Linked DNA regions of Homo sapiens: regions 2, 3, 4, 5 and 6 are each linked to region 1. The links come from fine-mapping of genetic effects on gene expression. A gene starts in region 1. Each other region holds a variant in brackets. All regions are shown on one strand. Distances are between the middles of the regions. Region 1 holds the start of CLK4 (CDC like kinase 4). Region 2 has its middle 28 kb from the start of MSANTD5. Region 3 overlaps ZNF354A (zinc finger protein 354A). Region 4 has its middle 22 kb from the start of CLK4. Region 5 has its middle 18 kb from the start of MSANTD5. Region 6 has its middle 9.6 kb from the start of MSANTD5.

Region 1 (4,090 bases):
AACAGTTAAGTTTTAACAGTCAGGTCCAAATTCTCCTAAACAGGGTGAGTTTAAATGGTAAAAAGAGAAGAATTTCACAATTCAGCAAGGAGCTGAAAAAAGCTAAAATGGAGTAAAACCCACTCAGTTAACCTCATTCAGCTTGCCCAAATGACTAATAAGCAAACAAATGCAAGCAGAAATTTAAATGATTTTAAATGGATTAAAGGTTTTGGAGTGAGGCAGCTTCAATTCTTCTGGGAGGTATTCCACAAGAAAGTATGTGTCACGCCATCAGAGTCTGATTGCCACCAGATAGTCAGATATTTTAATTCACTCTCTTGCTGATTCTAATTCTATACCCATCAAGCATCCTTCTAAGGTGGCTCTCAGCTCACTTTACAGAGGAAGAGAAGGCACTGATCAGGCCAAACAGCAATTCTAAAACTCTTGTTAGCGTCTCAATGGAAGTGAGCATTCCGGTTTGATACAAATGGAGTCACTTCCATATGGGAACGTGACATGAATAACAGCACACATTTACTTGAGGCAAAAGGCCAAAACACAAACTTTCTTCATTAGAGCTATCAAGAAAAATTTATGGCTGGACGCAGTGGCGCCTCATCCCTTGAGCCCAGGAATTCGAGACTGGCCTGGGCAACACGGCGAAACCCTGCCTTTACAAAAAATACAAAAAATTAGCCGCACATGGTGACTCGAGCCTGTAGTCCCACCTACTGGGACAATCACTGGAGCCCAAGGAAGTCAAGGCTGCAGTGAGCCATGATCACGCCATTGCATACCAGTATGGGCGACAGTGAGACCCTGTCTCAAAAAAAAAAAAAAAAAAAAAAAGAAAATGTGTATTTCAAGTGCAGTTCTTCTGAAGCGTTCCGTCAAATACCAAAGTTGTATTTTAACCACATCAGGAACTCAGCTTGGTTAAGCATTTTTAAATCATAGCAAGCAAAATCACATCTGATGACCGAGCGTTATTATTATGACCCTCCATTACTATGAAGTTTTTTTCAAGACTTATGTATCTTCTTCAGTTTTGTTTTTTCCTCTTCTACTGTAAGTCTGCTTACAACCAGCTAACCTCCAGCAAAACAGAACTCTCAAATTATCAGTTAATATGCAAACATTAAAATAAGAACGAGCTCCGTTGTGAGAGTCCAAAATTCTTCTCAAGTTCACTACTTCAAATGTAATTCAGCTGTTAGTCCCAGCCTCTGACCTCCCCCACTCACCCTGCAATGTTCAAAAATATTTTATCTGGAGGCACAAAGATCACCCGACCCACGTTCTACGTGGTAAGGTTCCTTCGCATACATAAAAAAGAAAAGCTATCTAGAATCATGACACTGCCTCTAATAAAGCATCCCACATGCTAGAGTAGGTATCTTTCAAAAAATAATGACACAATGGATCTCATATGTAGATCCATCGCCACTGCCCTTAAGATCCTGTAGTTCTTGACAACTTTACGCTACGTACATGGCTTAAAAACATCGAAACAGGTTATAAGTTTAGGATTGGATGGCTCCAAGAGGACTGCATTTAATGGGTTACAAGCCTGTAGGGGTGTGTAAAAAGCACAATCGCACAGGACAGCTATGAGGCAAGACAAAGTGGCTGGCGAGTTCAGTTTGCGGGGCGGTTTCCTAAGGATCGGATAAGCCTATCTGGACTATTTAGGCAACCAGGGATAATAAGATGCAAAACCACCAGAAACGCAGGTTCGCTGCAACAATGTTGTGTTCAGCATAGCACAGAGGACTAGCCTCCGCAAATTTCCACCTCTCACAAGCAGCTACTGCCCTCAACCACCTGGATTTGCACGGACGCCCGGTCCCCACCTCCCGGCTCCTGGGCACCCGGCCAGTGCCTTTGGCGCACTCAAGACAGGGGCAAATGCTTGACTCTGGAAAACCCCCGAAACGCTACAAACGGCCCAGGCCAGGAATCCAGGGGAAGACTTGATCTCCGACAACACGAATGCCAGAGACGGCTCTCGAAGGGTCTCCCGACAGGTCCTAGCGCCCGCCGGCTGGAAGAGGTCCCGACAGGGTTAACCAACAGCCGCGCTCGCCAGGCAGCAGGGGACCGCGAGCCCACGGCCTCCGGAGCCGCGACGCGAGCGGCCAGGGCCCTCAGAGAAGGGTCAGCGGCAGAACCGCGACGCCCGAGCAACTTTCGGTGCTGCCGGCGTGCACCAGCCGAGCAGCGCCTCGCAGAACTCCCAACTCAGCTCCAGAAGCCCAGGCCCCTAACGCGGTCGTTTCTCCGACACCTGGCTCGGAGACCTAAAGACCGACAGCCGCCTGTCCCAGCACACACCATCTGCAACCCTACCTCCGCAAAAGCAAATGGCCCTTCGGCCGAGAAATGTCGCCAAACTGCCGTCTTCCCTCCTCGGCCGCTGCGACAAACACCCCACAAAATGGCGGCAGCGCCGTCGCCCTAGAATCCCCCGAGTCGCCTCTAGCACCACCTACGCCGCGCGAACGCGCCTGCGTGACAGAACCTTGCGCGCTCCCGCCGCTCCACCTAAGGGCGGGGCTCCACGTGACGTAAGAGCGGGGCTCGAGCCTCCACACTGCGGCTGCGCGGCCCAAGCATTTCCACCCCCCCCCCCCCGCCCACCCGGTCCCGGGGCCTCTAGGCCGGGAGGGTGTTTACGTTCTCTACGGGCTCGGGTGGAACCGGGAAGGAACGCCCGTGTCCCGCCCTCAGTGTGTACCGCGTGTCTGCCCCCTCCCCCGGGACCTCAACTCCCGCAGCCGGCACCCGACAACGGCCCCAAAACCGCCTAGGGCGGGCCTTGGCTGGTCCCTGGGCTGTTCCCTGGACTGGGTGCTTGTCCTGCCCACTTGGCGCTTCCAGTCTAAGGTGGATTCGGACAAAGAGGCTGTCTCAGAAAACAAGCTCAAGGGGTGCTAATCTTTTCAAGGCACGTGCTCCTATTCAGAACAAAACAAAAACCCGGAGGTTTCAATGGAGACTCCTGACAAGGTTTTCCTGTTAGGATCCCTACCTCCTGAGCAGTTAAGGTCGCTGGAAGTTTCCCTAACGAAGTTTTCCCCATTTTTTTTTGTCCCTGCGGGCTGATTTTATTCAAGGCTGAAAAATGTCTCTGAGCTAGTGATAGTCCGTTATGGGGCTTGCTTACCTCAAATAAGGTATTCTGCAGTTCTGAGGACCCTCAGGCAGTTCCCCCGTGTAAGTATGTAACATGAGAAATATTAGGGTCAAAGTCGGAGCCCTGTGGGGAACACTCAAGGGCCAGAGGGAAAGGGGCCTGAGAAGGAATGATCAGCAGAGGAGGAGAACCAAGAATAGGGTGTCAAAGCAAGGAAGGGCGTAAGTGAGGGAAAGGGTTTAGGTGAGACTGAAGATCGTGGGGGGGGACGGCGGGCGGGGTGGGGGTTGGCTTCTGTATTCTGACGGGGATTCGCTGGATAAAAGGGAAAGCTAGAAATCAAATTTGGGAGGGTAGGGTTGAACTCTTGCGGGTATTAGCCCAGTAGCATGTGGGAGACCTGTTATCCTGTTAGGTGAAAGGAGGGAACGGAAATACCTTTAGTGATCTAACATGATAGAAACTTGTGCCATCTGGTTTGGGTAAGTAGGGTAAATTTAGATAAATCTCGGAGATTGTACAGCATTTCAAAAAGTAAGTTGAATTTTCATGGAGATTGCACTCCAAGAAGCGAAGTTGAAAAGAAACTTGGAAAACTGGAAGGGTAAACTCTTTATGCTACAGAATGAAACAAATGATATTATTTTCATCTAGAATAGCCACCATTTTTGCATCTACAAATTTAAATCTTACTCATCCTTGAAAGGCCATTTCTTTAAGATGCTGTCTCTGACATGAGTTCCCACCCATTTCCCGGCTCCTGACTACTCCAGTTAGATGTGAAGTCCTCAAATAGTGGAGTATTTGGAGCCACCTGGTATGCTAACAGATTTTGCCCAAAGAGTGAAATGTATTGGTTCTACAATTGATTACACATCCCGTCTCAAGGGAATCTATTAGATAGAATGTTGAGCTGACTGGTCTGGGCGATAATACAAGGTAGAGTGGGGCTCAAATTGCAGCATATGA
Region 2 (4,088 bases), 43 kb after region 1:
TAAGTCTACCAGCTTCAGCAAAGCAGTCATACACTCGAGCAAGGAAAATTCTTCTTTAACATGGAATCGGTGCTGATACAGGCCCACTGCCTGAATGAGGAAAGCTGGGCCCCAGGAGACAAAGTGCCATGTTCCAGATCCCACTGGGACCAAGGAGCTGCAGACGCAGTGACACTCATGCGATGAGGACCTGCCACGTGGGGATGTGGTCACATATATCACAGGGGGCTAAAGGCAGTGAGCAATTCAAGCCCCAGAAAGAAAGCTGGCACGTGCCAGCAACGCAGAGACCTGCAGCAGCTCAGGCACAGGTTAGGAAACTCCAGATCGACTTGCAGGTGCTGGTCTGAGGAGGGAGTTAGAATTCACCCTGCGTGAATATCCCCCATTGCCAGAGAGGGAGCTGGTGGAAGGAGCTGCAGGGGCAGTGATGAGCTGTCATCCCTACTCACCATCCACAGCCACATTCAACGGGCTCTGGGAAGAGGCAGCGACGATTGCTCCGACAGGCTGCCCAACCGCTCTACCTGCCTCCCACCAGTTCTCACACTGCAGTCGGTGCAATCTTTCAACATGTCAGCCTTCAAAAGGAAGGAAATTCTGGCGCAACACGGAGAAGCCTTGAGGACATGATGTTAAGTGAAAAGAACCAGTCACAAAAGAACAAATACCGTATAAGTCCGCTTATATGAGATACCTAGAGCATTCTAACACAGAGCATTCTATAGAAAGCAGAATGGTGGTTGCCAGCGGCTGGGGGCAGGGGGAGCAGGGAGTTGTTTAACAAGTACAGAGTTGCCGTTTTGCAAGAGGAAAACGTTCTGGAGATGGATGGTGCTGATGGTTGTACAACAGTGTGAATATATTTACTGCTGCACTGCATGTACACTGAGAAATGGTGAAGATGATAAGGCTTATAGTCTGCATTTTTTACCACAATACAAATTAATAATAATAATAATAAAATATCACACCCCTGATCCCTCCAGAGGCTCCTCCTCACGCCTAGCAAATCTAAAACTTCTTGCCATGTGTGTTTGTTTCCAAGAGCCGCTGTCACCAAGTTCCACAAACCATGTGGCTTACACAGCAGATATGTGTTGTCTCATGGTCCTGGAGGCTGGAAGTCCGAGATCAAGGTGATGGCAGGGCCGGTTCCTTCTGTGAGAGGGGATTTGCTCCACGCCGCCTGCCTGGCTTCTCGTGGTTTGCTGGCAAGCTTTGGCATTCCTCGGCTTCTAGAGGCAACACCCCAATCTCCACCCTCATCTTCATGTGGTATTCTCCCTATCTCCAACTTCCCCTTTTTATGAGGACACAGTCATAGTGGATGAGGGGCCAACCCTAATGGCCTCATTTTTGTTTGTTTTGTCATAGCCTCCTTTTAATCTGATTACCCCTGTAAAGATCGTATCTCCAAATAAGATCCCATTCTGAGGTATGGAGGGTTAGGACTTTGACACATGGATTTTGGGAAGATACAATTCAACCCATAACACCGTGGCTCTGCAAAATGTGAGCCCTGACAGCCTGTGGCCTCGTTTCTTAGCGTTCTCCCCTCCACTGCAGGGCAGCCACACTTACTTCCTTGCTCATCCGCCAGTGCACCAAGCACTGCTGTCTTCCGGCCTTCGGGAATGTAACTCCTGCAGCTACAGTTGCGCCCTTGTCTTATGGAGTGCCACAGCAATGTAAGAAACATGTAGAGCATCACCCCAACATGAAAATGCCTCTTCCCACTCACTTCTGCTCTCAACTTGGCTGTTCCTGGAGAGCTTCGTAAAGTGTAGGGATTTATCAAATTCTAATTCCATTAGTTTATTCACTTGTTAAACAGTTTCCTCTTTCTCATTCACTGATTCACTCTTCCAACAAATATTTGCTGAATATCTACTTTATTCCACGCAGCCTGCAGGTGCCCGGGACTCACTGGTGATTGACACAAATGTCTCTTCTTCTTCTAGCTAATGTCCTAGCAAGAGAGGCCAAACACAGACAGTGCAAATAAATCGTGAACAAAATGCGTGATGCTAAAAGGTGATAAGGGCTTAGAGAAGAAGAGGAGTGACAAACGGGGTCTAAGAATGTGAGGGGCAGGTTCAGTGACAGCATGGAAATGGGTGGTCAGAGAAGGTCTGTGGGAAGGCAAGAGCTGAGCGAGGATTGAAGACACGGAGCGAGCCACAGAGCCAGCCACGGCGCTGTCTGGAGGACACACATTCCAGGTTGAAAGAATTGTTAGAGCAAAGGCTTTGGCGAGGAACTTTCCCTGGTATGTTGGGGCTGCAGCCC[G/A]TGGGGTTAAAGTGGACAAAGGGGAGAGTGGTCAAGGAGCAATTCAAAGGCAACGTGGAACAAATTTTTCGTGTTAGGGCTTTGGTTTCTGCTTGATTTAGGGGAGAATGTGCAGAGCTCTGAGCATGTCACGGAATAGACTAAGGGACAAAGGTAGACACAGGAAAGCCCACTAGGAGACTGTTACAGAGTGCCAGGGAGAAATGACGTGGGTTGAACCAGATGGGGAGCAGTGGATGGGGTGAGAAGAGAAATATCTGGAAGGTCCAGCCGTCATTCCTTCACAGACTGGATGCTTGCGGGAATATCAGAGGGCACGAGTGTTCACAGCCTGAGCAACTGAAAAGGCAGATTTGCCTTCAGCTGGGACAGGAAAGGCTGTGGACAAGAACAGCAGGTCTGCGGGGGAAGACCCTCAGTTTTGCTCTGGACTGAGCTCGAGATGTCTAGACGTCAAAGTGGAGGTGTCACAGGAATTTCTTTTTTTTCAACACCACATTGGAGGTCACAGTAAGAATTTCTGAGCTGAGTTGACAGAGACTTGACATCATGGTCAGCAGTAAGAACAAGAGCAATGACAGTAATAATAGCAGTAACAACAGCCCCAGTCTGCTGTCTTGAGTGGACAGACCACAGAGCTCTCGGGATGGCATGTTCCACCATCCCCAGTGTACACAGAAGGGCTCTGAGGCACAGGGAGGGAAGGGCTGGCTCTAGCTCACCCAACAAGCTAGGGCTGACTGGGGCTAGAATCCAGTTCTTCTGATCCCATATCCATCTCCTGCTTTTTTCTGACACGTAAGATGTTCTTTGATCCAACAGAACAGCCTCCTTTCCCTGAACAGATGCTGTATCTTCCCACTCTGCCAGGAATATCTGCCTGGCATCCCGACTTCCTTCTGACGAAGCCCATTTCAAATGCTGCCTCCTCTTCATGTGGGCATCGTCCACCTCTCTCCTTTCTCCTCTGACTGCTCTGGTCGCTCCCTTGCTCAGCCTCTGTCTCAGATTCCCTGATGCTCCCCGGAGACAGGGCACACATCCGACTCACACCTAGACCCCAAAGTTCCTCTCCTTGTGAACTCACAGCGGGGGCCACTCGGTGAGATTGAGTGGATAAGGGAAGGGGTGAATGCATTCCACACTCAGTAACCATGTTTGTGGCACCCTAGAAGACGCAGATGCAGGATATGCTTATTCATTTATTCATTTGAGACATTCTTAGCCATTGGAAGCACTAACTTCTTAAAAATGTGATAAAAGCTGTGAAATCTTTTGCCAGAAAACTGCACATATATACACACGATTTGCAGATAGATTCGAGGGGGTTATGAATTTCAACCCACCTGCATTCCTTAGACTTCAAATTAAGCATCTCTATTGCTGCGTACCACAGAGCTGGGGATCCGGGCTGGGCTAAAGTATAGCCCCGTCTACACTCTGGGACACCCACTGAGTTGGAGTTCAGTCTGTCTTAGATAAAAATATTCGCAATCACTACACAGCTGCTTCCCACATTTTCTCCCACAGGGCATGTGGAGAGGAGTCTGGCTTAAGTGATCTCCGGGCAGTGAAGAGGAATCTGTTGTCATGAACAATGGTTTCTATCTCACTTGGAGTTCAGGGATTTGTGGACCATCAGAGGCAGATGTGTTTAGGAGTTGTCGGAATTTTAGCACGATGCCTAGACTGTGGTTGTGGCTGATGCCTGCTCTTCTATCATGGATTGGCTGCATTTCAGAAGTGTGTGGACTGGTAAATGACAAATAAGTAAAAACCCTGTTGTTGACAAATTA
Region 3 (4,090 bases), 100 kb after region 1:
AACGAGAAAACACTATCTGACTCCGCTTTTTTTTTCTGAGGAGGAGTCTCGCTCTATTGCCAGGCTGGAGTGCAGTGGCGCAATCTTGGCTCACTGCAACCTCCGTCTCCCGGGTTCAAGTGATTTTCCTGCCTCAGTCTCCCAAGTAGCGGGGACTACAGGAACATGCCACCACGCCTAAGTTTTGTATTTTCAGTAGAGACAGGGTTTCACCATGTTGGCCAGGATGGTCTTGATCTTCTGACCTTGTGATCTGCCCGCCTCGGCCTCCCAAAGTGCTGGGATTACAGGTGTGAGCCACCGCGCCCGGCCTATGTGACTCCCTTTTAAGGATGGCAGTGATCAGCAAACTACGGGTCATGGGCCAAATTCAGACCACTGCCTGTTTATGTATGGCCCTGTGCAAAGAATGGTGGGAAAAAAAAAGAGAAATATGTTACGGAGACCATTACGCAGCCCACAAAGCCTAAAGTCTTTACTACGTGGCTTTTTTTTTTTTGAGACAGAGTCTCGCTTTGTCGCCCAGGCTGGAGTGCAGTGGCGGGAACTTGGCTCACTGCAAGCTCCTCGCCATTCTCCTGCCTCAGCCTTCAAAGTAGCGGGGACTACAGGCGCCCGGCATCACACCCAGCTAATTTTTTTTGTGTTTTTTAGTAGAGACAGGCTTTCACCACGTTAGCCAGAATGGTCTCTATCTCTTGACCTCATGATCTGCCCGCCTTGGCCTCCCAAAGTGCTGGGATTACAGGTGTGAGCCACCATGCCCAGCCTACATGGCTTTTTATAGTAAAAGTTTGCTAATCCCTGGAAAAGACAAGTGGGAAAGGCAGGTGGTAGGCCTAGAGGCTGAATGAAGCTCCCTGTTGGGAGACAAGCAAACTACAGAATCGTTGGGAAACGATGCCTGAATCATGGACAAACTTGGAGTGTGTGATTACATAGAGAGAGAGGAATGATTATCAATACCACCTCTTCCATTCCCAGACACAGGGCAATTTCATGCCTATAAGGGGGAATAGGTTTTTAATGTTTATTTATAAAGATCTGATTTGTACAATCCTCACACACTCAGCTCAAATTTTTCAGTGACCAACCGCTTTTATTCAGGGAAGGAGGTGCTGAGATATCCCAATTTTTGAATTCTGTTTCTAGAGGGAAAATTTCCTTACCCAGTGAGACCAGGTTCCTATAGTTCTCCAGCATCACATCCCGGTACAAGTTTCTCTGAGAAGGGGCCAGCTTTCTCCACTCATCTCGGGTAAACAGCACAGCCACATCCTCAAACGTCAGTGACACCTGTAAGGACAAGTCGTTCCAGCTCACCCAGGACCACCCTCACAGAGCAGAGGGGGCGGCAGTGGGAAAGACACGCTACCCGTGAAACACTTCCCATACTATTCAAGCTTCTGAAGGTTCCAGATCATTCGTTTAATGAATAATTGGCCAGTAACAAATGTATACTGAGCAGCACACAGTGAGATTCAGGCCTAGTGCAGCCACTGTAAGAGATGGGTAGAGGAATTACGGCCATTAGTGGGAGTGTTAATTAGAAAACTCTTTCTGATGGCGATTTGCTAATACATATTAGAACCCTCAAAGTATACTCTTTAAAGTACCAATTACTCTATTTGTACGATAATGAACAGTGCACAAAAGTACACACAAACATATTCATGGTGTTTTTAAGAGCAAAAAACCAGGAATAATCTAAATACTTAATGATGGAGGTTAGGTTAAGCAACTGAAGGTACTCTCTATGTGCTTACTCAAGCTTAAGGATAGTAATGACGAAAAGTAAAATAGCTATAATTTATTGAAGGCTTTCTATGGGCCAAGTATTGATCTTAGAGCTTTATGTTAATTTGCAGTGTATAATCTTTATTTAACATTCACAACAATCCTATCAAGACGATACCATTATTGTTGCCACTTTACACAAGAGAAAACAAAGTCACAGACAAGATAAGAAATTTGTCCAGGTCACACAGACACAGTCACTGACCAGCTGTGTGACTTGTACACATTTTTTTTTTTCTTTGAGACAGAGTTTGGCTCTTGTTGCCTAGGCTGGAGTGCAATGGCATGATCTTGGCTTACTGTAACCTCCACCTTCCGGGTTCCAATGATTCTCTTGCCTCGGCCTCCTGAGTAGGTGGGATTACAGGTGCTAGACACCATGCCCGGCTAATTTTTGTATTTTTAGTAGAGACAGGGTTCCACCATGCTGGTCTCAAACTCCTAACCTCAGGCGATCTGCCGGCCT[C/T]GACCTCCCAAAGTGCTGGGATTACAGGTGTGAGCCACTGTGGCCGGCTGACTTCTACAAATTTTGTATCCTCTCTGTGACTTTGTTTTTTCTTGTGTAATTCAAATCCAGCAGATGTCTCACTGAGCTTGCATTCTTAACTACTCTGTAAAACTGCCTTTTAATGCCTGCCCCTTAGGGTTAAGAAATAAATGTGATAATCTACACAATAAAGATGGATAGCGATGATGGCTGCACAGCAATGCGGAAGTACCTAAAATACCACTGAATTATACACTTAAAAAGTTAAAATGGTATATTTTATGTTATATATATTTTGCCACAATAAAAAAAGGTTAAAATGGTAACATAGATGGTAACATGCATACACAAACACACACACACAAATAAATGTGTACAGAAAATGATTTATTCGGGCTGGGTGCAGTGGCGCACATCTGTAATCCCAGCACTTTGGGAGGCTGAGGCGGGTGGATCACCTGAGGTCAGGAGTTTGAGACCAGCCTGGCCAACGTGGTGAAACCCCATCTCTAATAAAAGCACAAAAAAAAAAACTTAGCCGGGCGTGATGGCGGGAGCCTGTAATCCCAGCTACTTGGGAGGCTGAGGCAGGAGAATTGCTTCAACCTGGGAGGCAGAGGTTGCAGCGAGCCGAGATCCCGCCACTGCCTGGGCGACAAAGCGAGATTCAAAAAAAAAAAAAAAAAAGAGAACCACTAGACACGGGTGGGGAGGGTGGGTGGTCCTCCCTACAGAATCCACCACTCATGAGGGCGGACCAGCTCCTCCAAGAGAAAAGGACTTGGGCTCCATCCTGGCTGGAGATGGTCCCGGGTGAAGAACTCCAGTTAGTGGGGAAAATCCATCCACTGGGATCTGGGAGGGCAATGAGCTCACCTGGGGCCTCGCTTCCCGCTGCCCAGCAGCCATGTCCTCTTTCTGGCTCTCCCGGGAGGACGGCGCAGTCTCCAGAAGGCAGATCTGAGAAGAAAAAGGGAGCCAGGAAGAACCCCTTCTGCTTTCCAGCCCTGGAATCCGCAGCTCTAAAACCCCGACTCCCGCTGAGAAGGACCCCGCGCGCCCTCACAGGGATTCGGGAGGAGCCAGGAGCCCGCGGACCAGAGCAGCGCTGGGCCGCCCGGCCAGGCCCAGGCCCCACAGGCTTGGGGCTTACGGAGGGGACGCTGGAGCCGCAGTGGCAGCAGCGACCCGCTGAGCCCACCAGGGCCAGGGCTCGCCCCACGCCGCTGAGTTCCTCGGCGCCAGCTGGCACTGCCAGCACCCACTGCACCGCTCAGGAAACTGAGGCAGCGCCGGGGCACCTGCCCCGTTCACGCCGCTGCGAGGCGGGCCGGGACTCCCACCACGACGGCCCCGGGACGACTTCCCTCCGCCTCAAGCCTTTCCCAGCCGGTTCCTCTCTCTCCCGCCAACGAATCATCTCCCGACTCCACGGAAAACGGCTTTTTTTTTTTTGAGGCGGAGTCTCGCTCTGTTGGCCAGACTGGAGTGCAGTAGCGCAGTGGCAGGATCTCGGCTCACTGCAAGCTCTGCCTCCCGGGTTCAAGCCATTCTCCTGCCTCAGCCTCCCGAGTAGCTGGGACTACAGGCGCCCGGCTCATTTTTGTATTTTTAGTAGAGACGAGGTTTCACCGTGTTGCCCAGGCTGGTCTCGAACTCCTGATCTCAGGTGATCTGCCCGCCTTGGCATCCCAAAAATCTAGGATTACAGGCGTGAGCCACCACGCCCGACCCCATGTATCCCATTTCTAACACGATGTTTCTTTTTTGAGACGGAGTCTCGCTCTGTCGCTCAGGCTGGAGTGC
Region 4 (4,090 bases), 22 kb after region 1:
TTCTAAAGTCCTAATGTCTAATCTCCCCTTTTTCCTCAGTAGTAGTTCTCCTACCCAATAGTTAGCTGCTGCTAGTCACTTAGCCGAAAGATTGTATGTCTCTGACTCTTGCAGATTGGTAAGGCCTTGTAACTAGTTCCAGGGAATAACAAGTAAGTAGAAATGTTCCTAAATGGAGACGGTGTACATTTCTGTTCTTTGCCCTCCTCCCGTGGGTATAGCGCAGGTGTGATGGCTAAATCAGGGATCCATAAAGTGCTGCCTACTGGCTGGCCAGATGTTTTTAAAGTTTTATGAGAATATAGTCATGATGGCTGGGCACAGTGGCTCACATCTGTAATCCCAGCACTTTGGGAGGCCGAGGTGGGAGGATCACTTGGGCCCAGGAGTTCGAGACCAGCCTGGGCAACATAGTGAGACCCTATCTGTATTGAAAATTTGCAAAAAGTAAAAAAGATAAAAATATATAGTCATGCATATTCATTTGTACATCGTCTGCTGCTTTTGTATTACAAAGGTGGAGCTGATTAGTTATGGCAGAGACTTTGTGGCCAGCAAAGCCTCAAATATTTAGTCTCTGGTTCTTTGAGCACGAGTTTACTCACCGTTGGCCTAGAATGTGAACTGCCTCCTTATACCATAAAGAACCTGAGAAAACAATATGCTATAATACAATGCTTTTTCCCTGGGAATTTCTTTCAATATTACTAGTGTCCATCTACCTTTTAATGTTTTTCAGAGATGGGATCTCTCTCTGTTTCCCAGGGTGGAGTGTATTGGTATGATCATAGCTCATTACAGTCTCAAATTCCTGGGCTCAAGCAATCCTCCTGCCTCAGCCTCCTGAGTAGCTGGGACTACAGGTATGTGCCACCATGCTGGGCTAATTTTTTTTTAAAAAGTTTTCGTAGAGACAGGGTCTCACTATGTTGACCAGGCTGATCTTGAACGCCTGTCCTCAAGCAATCCTCTCGCTTCAGTCTCCCAAGTAGCTGGGATTCTGGGCTCAAGTCATCTACTTATTTTTTATTTTATTTATTTATTTATTTATTTATTTATTTATTTATTGAGATGGAGTTTTGCTCTTGACACCCAGCTGTAGTGCAATGGCACGATCTCAGCTCACTGCACCCTCTGCCTCCTGGGTTCAAGTGATTCTCCTGCCTCAGCCTCCCTAGTAGGTGGGATTACAGGCACCCGCCGCCACGCCTGGCTAATTTTTGTATTTTTAGTAGAGAGGAGGTTTCACCATGTTGGTCAGGCTGGTCTCAAACTGCTGACCTCAAGTGATCCGCCAGCCTTGGCCTCCCAAAGTGCTGGGATATCAGGCGTGAGCCACCGCGCCTGGCCCATCTACTTATTTTTAACTGATACTTGAAAGAAGGAATCATTATTACTAATTATAGTATACAATATTTTCTGTGCATCTTAGTCATAGACACTTTATTGATATTGGATTGAACTTTTCATTGAGTTTCTATGAAGGATAGTGTGAAGTGGAATGGGGACTAAGACCTGGGAAGTGTCTACATTCAAGGGTCTTCCATGTGGGTGCTGGTGAGAGGCACAGGGGTGAACAGGGTTAGCAGGGTCACAGCAGAGCAAGAACAGGGCTGAGGACGAAGCCCTGGGAGCAACAGAATTTGTGGGGTGGAAATAAGAGTCCGTGAAGGAGGCCAGAAAGTCAGGAAGGGAATGCCAGAGAGGAGCAGACCTCAGGAGCTGCATAAGGGAGGGAACTGAATTGCATCAAGAGTGGTGTGAAAAGCTAAAGGAAGACTATGTTAGATAGGAAATAAGAAGATAGTGATTTAAAAAATTAGGAAGTCCATTAGCTCAGTATGCCTGTAGTCCCGGCTACTCAGGGGGCTGGGGTGGAAGGATTGCTTGAGCCCAGGAGGTCGAGGCTGCAGTGAGCTGTTACTGTGCCACTGCACTCCAGTCTGGGTGACAGAGTGAGATGCCATCTCTACTTTAAAAAAAAAATTAGAAAGTCCCTAGTTATCAGGGAAATGCAAATTTAAACCACAACGAGCTACAATTTTCCCTCCCCGACTAGAACGGTTAGAATGAAAATTAGATAATATCAAGCGTTGGCAAAATACAGTGAAATTAGGCCAGGCGCAGTGGCTCATGCCTATAATCCCAGCACTTTGGGAGGCCGAGGCGGGCGGATCACGAGGTCAGGAGATCGAGACCATCCTGGCT[A/T]ACACGGTGAAACTCCATCTCTACTAAAAATACAAAACCTTAGCCAGGCGTGGTGGCGGGCGCCTGTAGTCCCAGCTACTCGGGAGGCTGAGGCAGGAGAATGGTGTGAACCCGAGAGGGGGAGCCTGTAGTGAGCCGAAATCACGCCACTGCACTCCAGTCTGGGCGACAAGAGTGAGACTCTGTCTCAAAAAAAAAAAATGTAGCGAAATTAGACCCTCCACACATGGATAAGAATGTAAAGCAGTGCAGCCACTTTAGAAAAGTCTGGCAGTTGCTCAAATGATTAAACAGTTATCATATGACCCAGCAATTCCACTCCTGTTATATACCCAAGAGAATTGAAAACATGTTCACAAAAAACGTATACATGAATGTTCATAACAGCACTATTCATTATAGTCCAAAAGTGTAACAATCCAAATGTGCATCAATGGATGAATGGATAAACAAAATGTGGTCTTTCCACACAGTGGAATATTATTCAGCCATAAAAAGGAATGACGTGCTGACACATGCCACAGCATGGATGGACTTGGAAAACATTAAGCCGAGTGGATGAAGCCAGTCACAAAAGGCCATACATGGTATGATTCCATTCATATGAAAGTACAGAGCAGGGAAATCTACAGTGAAGGAAAGCGGATTAGCGGTTGTTTAGGGTCAGGGGAGGAGGATGGGAGTATGGGGAGTGAAAGCTAAAGGGTGTGGGGTTCCTTTTTGTGGTGAGAGAAACATGCTAGAGACCATTGAATTGTGAACTTCACATTGGTGAAGTGTATGGTATATGAAACATACAGCTCAGTGAAGCTGTTTAAAAAATTAGGAAGTCACCAGTAGCTTTGAGGAAGCATTTTTAATCAAGTACGAGTGATGAGGCCAGGATCCTGGGTGTGGTATGTTGAGGGTGATTGGGAGTTGCAAAGTGATGAAGGGGAAGCAATGCTGAGAGGTTATTTCAGGTTTGAGAAGATGTGAGGCTGCTTGGAGAGCAAGAGGAGGTAACCTGTCAGTGGAGAGGAAGGGGGTCGTCAGGGAGACAGTGACGGTTGATGGAGACAGGGCCAAAGGACATTCTTAGGGGAGGCACAGGTGGCAAGTGGAGCTTTTGAAGAGGAGAGAGGCCAGTTTCCCCCTAAAACACGAGGGAAAGAAAGAAGAATCCTGAGAGCTCATCGAAAACAGGAACCACATCAGATTTGTTTTTGTAATCTCCGCATCTATCTCAATTAATGGGAAATATACATTTATTCATTCACTAAACATTTAATGAGGGCAGACTGTGCCAGGCACTACTTCCCTGGCTAGTGATCCCACAGCAGCCCTCACAGACAAAACCAGCACACAGGCTGTGGAAGAGTTGTTAGTATTCACCAAACGTCCATGAGTGCCTCTATTTCCCAGCTTTCCTTGCAGTGAGGCTGAATCCACATGACTAGTTCTGGCCAATGGCCTGTGGGTGCATCACTTTCAGGTTGAGGCAATAAAGAGCCAGTGTTTGGCCTCCTTTTCTCCTCTTCTGCTATGGTGACCTTGGAAACCACACGTCCATGAAGCAATACGGATCCTTTCTGTGTGCAATGTGTTCTCGCCTCTTGATTTGCTTTGATTCTCCTCTCTATCTCCTCTTCCATTTCCTTCTCTCTGTCTTTCTTTTAAGTGCTGGTCACAACAGGCTAAATGATTTCATGAGTCACGAATAAGCTCTTTGAAAAATATTGTTCTAGATCAACACTTAATCTACACATGAAGCGTAAGGGATCTTGTTAATCCAGGTTCTGGCTCAGTAGGTATGAGTTGGGGCCTGAGAGTCTGCATTCTAAAAAGCTCCAAAGGCAGGGTGCAGTGGTTCACGTCCATCATCCCAGCACTTTGGGCCCAG
Region 5 (4,090 bases), 53 kb after region 1:
GATTCACAAATTGTTCATTGCTCAATTAAACTTCTTTAAATTAATTTGGCTGAAGCTTTTCTTTTAACACCCCATACTTACCCATCACTGGGGCCTTCCCTCACTTGCCCTGAACTAGCACGACTTAGTGTATACACATCTTTCCAGACCCTCGGGGTAAGTTGGATCTGAAACGTCCCTCCTTGGCTGTCTCGTCCACTGGCTATCCCTGTTAAATTCCTGGTTGGCCTGCCATTTGGATGCTTGTCCCAACCAATATCTTGACCTCAGGATAGCTGCAATATTGGCTTTATGTGACTGTTTGCCACTAAGATCCCTATTGTTTTTTACAACACCCTTGGGCATTGAATTTTCCATGCTCTGCTATGGACAGACAGGAGAGCTCCCGATCCTTAGGACCTGGCCTGCGGCTGGATAGAACATCCATACCACAGGGGAAGGGGAGCAGTGATTGGAGAACTCCTAGACTCTCTATCTTCTGACCAAACGTCAGTAGATTTTCTTGAGTAAATGATTCTCAATTTGTTGTTCCCCTTTGGTACATTTTCAGCATTTAAATAGCTGTTTTTGCCAATTTTATCTAGTTATATTGTTGCTTCTTGTGGAGATGATTGGTGGGGCTCCTAACTCAGCCATTTCAGAAGTTCGTCTCTCGACCTTCTCCATTTTCATCATGTGTTTTGAAGCTCTGTTATTAGATGGATACATATTTATGACTGATACGTCTTCCTAGTCAACTGATCCTCTTATAATTATAAAATATTTGTCTTTAACAACATATTTTATCTGAAAGTCCCTTTTTTTTTTTTTTTGAGACAGAGTCTCACTCTCTCTTGCCCAGGCTGGAGTGCAGTGGTGTGATCTCTGCTCACCGCAACCTCCACCTCCCGGGTTCAAGCAATTCTCCTGCCTCAGCTTCCTGAGTAGCTGGGATTATAGGCAGGCGCCACCACGACCGGCTAATTTTTGTATTTTTAGTAGAGATGGGCTTTCACCATATTGGCCAGGCTGGTCTCGAACTCCTAACCTCAGGTGATCCACCTGCCTCAGCCTCCCAAAGTGCTGGGATGACAGGCATGAGCCACTGTGCCCAGCCCTTAAAATTTATTTGATATTAGTATTAGGTATATTATGCTTATGTTTGTTTTTTGAGACAGGGTCTTACTCTGTCAGCTGGAGTGCAGTGGCACCATCTCGGCTCACTGCAGCTTCGACCTCCCATGCTCAAGCGATCCTCCCACTTCAGCCTCCCAAGTAGCTGGGATTACAGGCACTACCACCACGCCCAGCTAATCTTGGTATTTTTTGTAGAGACAAGGTTTCACCATGTTGTCCAGGCTGAAGTGCCATGACTATTTACAGGTATGGGTATTGCACACTACGACCTCAAACTCCTGGGCTCAAGCAATGCCCCCACCTCAGCATCCTGAGTAGCTAGGACCAGAGCCATGTACCACCACGCCCAGCTAATGTTTTAAAATTTTTTGTAGAGATGGGGTCTTACTTTGTTGCCCAGGTGGGTCTTAAACTCCTGGGCTCAAGCGATCCTCCCATCTCAACTTCCCAAAGTGCTGGGGTTACAGTCTGAGTCACCACGCCTGCCTATATGCTATGTTTATATGGTTTATAGATTTCCTTCCATTTACTTTCAAATATCTATGCCTATGTTTAAAGCAGATTTCTTATAGACATCTAATGGTTGAGTCTTTCCTTTTTCACTCATTACTGCAATCTGTGCCTACTGATTAGAACGTTTAGTATAACTGTTGACATTATGCCACCTTCACATCATAGGTAGAGACCCTACAGCTCTATAGTTCCATTGACCACCATCCTTTATAACATAGTTATTATAAATACCACAGTTGGCCAGGTGCGGTGGCTCATGCTTGTCATCCCAGCACTTTGGGAGATCGAGGTGGGTGGGTCACCTGAGGTCAAGAGTTCGAGACCACCAGCCTGGCCAACATGGTGAAACCCCAGCTC[T/C]ACTAAAAATACAAAAAATTAGCCAGGCATGGTGGTGCATGCCTGTGGTCCCAGCTACTCAGGAGGCTGAGGCAGGAGAATTGCTTGAATTGGGGAGGCAGAGGTTACAGTGAGCCAAGATCACGCCACTGTACCCCAGCCTGGGCAACAAAGCAAGACTCTGTCTCAAAAAAAAAAAAAAATTACCACAGTTACATGTATAACCACAATACAATACCATACTTTTTTATTTATATAAATTTTGGATAAACTAAGAGAACAATTTAAAAATATCTACTCATAGATTTACCGTTTTGTTGTGCTTTGTTGCATCTACTTTCATTTTCCTTAAAATATCTCCTTCAGCATTTATTTATTTATTTATTTATTTTTTGAGACGGAGTCTCGCTCTGTCGCCCAGGCTGGAGTGCAGTGGCGTGATCTCGGCTCACTGCAAGCTCTGCCTCCCGGGTTCACGCCATTCTCCTGCCTCAGCCTCCCGAGTAGCTGGGACTACAGGCGCCCACCACCACACCTGGCTAATTTTTTTGTATTTTTAGTAGAGATGGAGTTTCACCATGTTAGCTAGGATGGTCTCGATCTCCTGACCTCGTGATCCACCCGCCTCGGCCTCCCAAAGTGCTGAGATTACAGGTGTGAGCCAACACGCCCAGCCTCCTTTAGCATTTATTACAATGCAGCTCTACTGGCAAGAAATCATCTTTGTTTTCTTTTACCTGAAAGTATTTTTATTTTCTCTTCAGTTTGGAAGAATAATTGTACTAGATATAGAATGCTGATTGACAGTTTTGCTCTTTTAAAGAGGTCTACCCAACTCTTCTGCCCTCTGATAAAGAACTGTCAGTGGTAATTTTCATTTATTGTTTCCTTGTATGACATGTGCCATTTCCCTCTGGCTGATTTCAACATTTTGTCTTTATCTTTGGTTTGTAGTAGGTTGACTATTATGTGCCTAAGTGAGGTTTCCTTTAATCCTGTAATGTGATTCTCTAAATTTATGGCTTTCATTCATTGAAAAATCTAGGGACATTGTTTCATTTCGTTTCTAAAAAATTGTACTAAGAAGGCCAGGCATGGGGCTTATGCCTGTAATCCCAGCACTTTGGGAGGCTGAGGCGGGTGGATCGCCTGAGCTCAGAAGTTCGAGACCAGCCTGTGCAATATGGCGAAACTCCATCTCTACCAAAAATACCAAAAAAAACAAAAAAAAAAAAAGAAGAAGAAGTAGAAGAAGAAAGAAAAAATTAGCCAGGCCCGGTGGCATGCACTTCTGGTCCCAGCTACTCCGAAGGGCTGAGGCGGGAGGATCACTTGAGCCTGGGACAGAGCAAGACTCCATCTCAAAAAAAATAAAACATAAAAAGGCCGGGTGCCATGGCTCATGCCTGTAATCCCAGCACTTTGGGAGGCCGAGGCGGGTGGATCACCTGAGGTCAGGATTTCGAGACCAGCCTGGCCAACCTGGCAAAACACTGTTTCTACTAAAAATACAAAATTTAGCTGGCATGGTGGCAGACGCCTGTAATCCCATCTACTCAAGAGGCTGAGGCAGGAGAATCGCTTGAACCCGGGAGGCGGGAGGCGGAGGTTTTGGTGAGCCGAGATCGCACCATTTGCCCTCCAGCCTGGGCAACAAGAGCAAAACTCTGTCCCCTCAAAAAAAAAAAAGTAGTAAGAACATTTAACATGAAATCTATCTTCCTGACAAATGTTTAAGCCCACAACACAGTATTGTCAATATAGGCACGGTGTCGTGCAGCAGCTGTCTAGAGCATACTCATCTGGCATAACCGAAACTGTACACCTGCTGAGCAGTACACCTCCATTTACGCCGCCCCCCAGCCCCTGACAACCGCCATTCTACCCTCTGTCTCTATGAGTTTAGCCTTTTTTTTTCCCAAGACGGAGTCTTGCTCTGTCACCCAGGCTGGAGTGCAGTGGCGTGATCTCGGCCCACTGCAACCTCCATCTCCTGGGTTCAAGCGATTCTCCAGCCTCAGCCTCCTGAGTAGCTGGGACTACACGCACCTGCCATTACGCCCAGCTAATTTTTGTATTTTTAGTAGAGACGGGATTTTACCATGTTGGTCAGGTTGGTCTTGAA
Region 6 (4,090 bases), 62 kb after region 1:
TGCTGCTAGGGTGTAAACCTACAAGGCTCACAGCTAAATACCTGCGGTGTTATCGGCCCCTGAACTCCGGCTTTTGTCTCTACTGTGCACAGATTTTCTGCCTCTCAGCTCCTGCTTTCCAAGCGGCAAATATTCACAGGGGAGAAGTCACTCCAAAGGCCAGGCTGGCTTCTCAGGGCTTCCCTCCTGTCTGTGATGGAAGCCCCATCACGTGACCGGGCGCGGCGGCTCACGCCTGTAATCCCAGCACTCTGGGAGGCCGAGGCGGGCAGATCACGAGGTCAGGAGATCGAGACCATCCTGGCTAACACGGTGAAACCCCGTCTCTACTGAAAATACAAAATTAGCCGGGCATGGTGGTGCATGCCTGTAATCCCAGCTACTCCGGAGGCTGAGGCAGGAGAATCGCTTGAACCTGGGAGGCGGAGGGAGGTTGCAGTGAGCTGAGATCACGCCACTGCACTACAGTCTGGGCTCGAAACTCCATCTCAAAAAAAAAAAAAAAAGAAGCCCCATCAACGTCTTGGCTGCCTTAAGAGCTCCTTAATTCCTTCAAAAATATATGTTTTCTGTTTTGACTGACTTTTCTACGTTTCTTTAGCAAGATAATTGGTCTGAAATCAGCTATTTGACAATTTCTAGGATAATTTTTAAAATTTTTCATTTTCTGGGCCAGGCGCAGTGGCTCATGCCTGTAATCCCAGCACTTTGGGAGGCCGAGGCAGGCAGATCACGAGGTCAGGAGATCGAGACCATCCTGGCGAACACGGTGAAACCCCGTCTCTACTAAAAATACAAAAAAATTAGCCGGGCGTGGTGGCGGGCGCCTGTAGTCCCAGCTACTCGGGAGGCTGAGGCAGGAGCATGGCGTGAACCCAGGAGGAGGAGCTTGCAGTGAGCCGAGATCGCCCCACTGCACTCCAGCCTGGGTGATAGAGCAAGACTCTGTGCAAAAAAAAATTTCTTTTTCTTTTTTTTCCTCTCATGAACTCTGCTACAAGAGAAGGTTTTGAGTATATTTGATTTCCCTCAACATTTTTTTTTTTTTTTTTGAGACAAGCTCTCACTCTCTGTCACCCAGGCTGGAGTGCAGTGGCCTGATCTCAGCTCACTGCAACCTCCGCCTCCCGGTTTCAAGCGATTCTCCCGCCTCTGCCTCCAGAGTAACTGGGATTACAGGTGCCCGCCACCACGCCTGGCTAAATTTTTTTATTTTTTAGAAGAGACGGGGTTTCACCATGTTGCCCAGGCTGGTCTTGAATTCCTGAGCTCAAGTTAATCCTCCTGCCTCGCCCTTCCAAAGTGCTTGGATTACAGGTATGAGCCACCGCACCTGGCCGGATTTCCCTCTACTTTGATAGAAATATATGATTATGGACGGGCACGGTGGCTCACACCTGTAATCCCAGCACTTTGGGAGGCCAAGGCGGGCAGATCATGAGGTCAGGAGATAGAGACCATCCTGGCTAACATGGTGAAGCCCCGTCTCTACTAAAAATACAAAAAATTAGCCGGGCATGGTGGCAGGCGCCTGTAGTCCCAGCTACTCGGGAGACTGAGGCAGGAGAATGGCGTGAACGTGGGAGGAGCTTGCAGTGAGCTGAGATCGCGCCACTGCACTCCAGCCTGGGTGACAGAGCGAGACTTTGTCTCAAAAAAAAAGAAAAGAAAGAAATATATGATCATATAAAAACAAAATGAAAAACTAAAGAGTATTATTTCTAGTAAAATAAAAACTGTTAAAATTTGGGTCTATTTTCAGTTTGATACTATTTTCTGTTTATGTAACTTAAATCACTTTAGTTTTCAGAAAATATATCCAGAAAAAAATTATTTTCTTCAATTTATTGAGGCATAATTGACAGAAAATTGTATCTATTTAAGGTGTACAACTGATGATTTCACATATGTTAACACTTTAAAATGATTACCCTGGCCAGCCCTGGTGGCTCACACCTGTAATCCCGGCACTTTGGGAGGCCACAGCGGGAGGATTACTTGAGGCCAGGAGTTTGAGATCAGCCTGGGCAACACAGCGAAACCCCATCTCTCCAAAAAAATACAAAAAATTAGCCAGGTGTGGTGGCATGTGCCTTTAATCCCAGCTACTACTCAGGAAGCTGAGATGGGAGAATTGCTTGAACCTGGGAGGCAGAAGTTGCAGTTAGCTGAGATGGTG[C/A]CACTGCACTCCAGCGTGGGTGACAAAATGAGACTCTAAGTAAATAAATAATAAAATAAAGTTATTACCATGATAAAGTTAATTAGCATGCTGCATTAGTCTGTTTCGCATGGCTGTAAAGGAATACCTGAGGATGGGTAATTTATACAGAAAACAGGTTATTTGGCCCACAGTTCTGCAGCCTGCACTAACACGGCACCAGTAACTGCTGGGAGTCCGGGGAGGCCTCAGGAAGGCTTTACTGTTGGTGGAAGGCAAAAAGGGAGCAGGCATGTCACATGGCAAGAGAGGAGGCAAGAGAGAGATGCCAGGCCCTTTTAAACAATCAGATCTCTTGGTAACTAATAGAGTAAGAACTCACTCATGACCTCAAGGACAGCACCAAGCCATTAATGAGGGATCCACGCCCATGACCCAAACACCTACTAGCCCTTACCTTCAACACTGGGGATTGCATTTCACATTATGAGATTTGGAGGCAAATATCCAAACCACAGCACTTACCCAATACTTCCCACACTTACCCCCTCCCTTTTTCGGTGAGAACACTTCAGATCTACTCTCTTAGCAAGCTTCAGTATAAAATATAGTATTATTAACTATGCTCACCGTGCTGTACATTAGATCTTTAGAATTCCTTCATCTTATAACTGAAAGTTTGTACACTTTGATCAAGATCTCTCCATTTCCTCCCCCACCTCCCTTCCCGGCAACCACCAGGTTGCTCTGCTCTCTGCTTCTATGAGTTGGAAATGTTTCTTCTTTTTAGATTCCATATATAAGTGATACCATACAGTATTTGTCTGTCTCTGTCACACTTCACTGAGTATAGTGCCCTCTAGGTTCATTTATGTTGTTGATAGGCAGGACTTCTTTTTTAAAGTGGCTGAATAATATTCCGCTGTGTGTGTATGTGTGTCAAGTTTTCTTTTTATCCATTCACCTGTCAGTGGACACTTAGATTGTTTCCGTATCTTTGCTACTGTGAATAGTGCTGCAATGAACGTGAGATGCAGATCTCTCTTCCAGATCCTGGATACATACCCAGAAGTGGCACTGTTGAATTATGTGGTAGTTCTATTTTTAATTTTTTTGAGTAAACTCCATACTGTTTTCCAGTGAAATAAGACAGTCAAAGAGGTTTTTCCATATCTTGGTACCAGGAGCTTTAACTCAGGTCCAACTCACCGTGGGCCCAGCGGGTCCCGGAACCCATTCTCTGGTCATTTCCCGGGTCCAGATGTGTAGTTGGAACAGACGTGTTCAGCAGCTAGCAGAGTTTCCACACGGGTTCCCTGAGCTATAAAGTGAGGGCAATTGTGATGGGAAAGGACAAATGGAAGGCGTTACAGCCATCTCTACCTAGAAAAATACTAAAACAAAAAACACACCAATACTGCCTTCCTGGAGGAATGATATAGATGAGTGCCATCATCAAAGACTTGAAGTATGGAGGGGTGGTGATTCCTACCCCACATCCTTGTCCAACTCTCCTGGCCTGTGCAGAAGACAGATGAATCCTGGAGAATGATGGTGGATTCCCAGAAGCTTAACCAAGTGATAACTCTAATTGCAGTTGCTGTACCAGATGCTGTTTCATTGCTTGAGCAAATTAACACATATCCTGGTACATGGTATGTAACTATTGATCTGACACACACCTTTTTCTCCATCCCTGTCCAGAAGGCCCACCTGAAGCAGTTTGCCTTCAGCTGGCCAGGGACACCTTCACTGTCCTCCCTCAGTTTAGATCAACTCTCCAGCCCCATGTCACAGTGTGAACCCAGGAGGCAGAGCTTGCAGTGAGCCGAGATCGCGCCACTGCACTCCAGCCTGGGTGACAGAGCGAGACTGCGTCTCAAAAAAAGGTATCGATTTTAAAACTTGATTTTTTATATATGTATATATTGT

What was found.
Region 2: its variant is fine-mapped to the expression of CLK4 in whole blood (INTERVAL, PIP above 0.99).
Region 3: its variant is fine-mapped to the expression of CLK4 in whole blood (TOPMed, PIP above 0.99).
Region 4: its variant is fine-mapped to the expression of CLK4 in fibroblasts (GTEx, PIP 0.96).
Region 5: its variant is fine-mapped to the expression of CLK4 in whole blood (GTEx, PIP 0.97).
Region 6: its variant is fine-mapped to the expression of CLK4 in whole blood (INTERVAL, PIP above 0.99).

The regions. Positions count from the first base shown.
Region 1 is chr5:178,624,612-178,628,701 of GRCh38, forward strand. CLK4 (CDC like kinase 4) reads right to left here and starts at 2,439. Exons shown (of 13, transcript NM_020666.3): 1 at 2,335-2,439. RefSeq lists enhancers at 1,385-2,065, 1,798-2,407.
Region 2 is chr5:178,667,484-178,671,571 of GRCh38, forward strand. No RefSeq gene overlaps it. Among named protein-coding and RNA genes, the nearest start is that of MSANTD5, 28 kb to the right of the region's middle. The variant G/A (reference allele first, on the strand shown) is at 2,293.
Region 3 is chr5:178,725,830-178,729,919 of GRCh38, forward strand. It overlaps ZNF354A (zinc finger protein 354A), which reads right to left. Exons shown (of 5, transcript NM_005649.3): 2 at 3,161-3,244; 3 at 1,170-1,296. The coding sequence starts at 3,193. Among named protein-coding and RNA genes, the nearest start is that of ZNF354A, 2.8 kb to the right of the region's middle. The variant C/T (reference allele first, on the strand shown) is at 2,264.
Region 4 is chr5:178,646,705-178,650,794 of GRCh38, forward strand. No RefSeq gene overlaps it. Among named protein-coding and RNA genes, the nearest start is that of CLK4, 22 kb to the left of the region's middle. The variant A/T (reference allele first, on the strand shown) is at 2,209.
Region 5 is chr5:178,677,874-178,681,963 of GRCh38, forward strand. No RefSeq gene overlaps it. Among named protein-coding and RNA genes, the nearest start is that of MSANTD5, 18 kb to the right of the region's middle. The variant T/C (reference allele first, on the strand shown) is at 1,987.
Region 6 is chr5:178,686,126-178,690,215 of GRCh38, forward strand. No RefSeq gene overlaps it. Among named protein-coding and RNA genes, the nearest start is that of MSANTD5, 9.6 kb to the right of the region's middle. The variant C/A (reference allele first, on the strand shown) is at 2,180.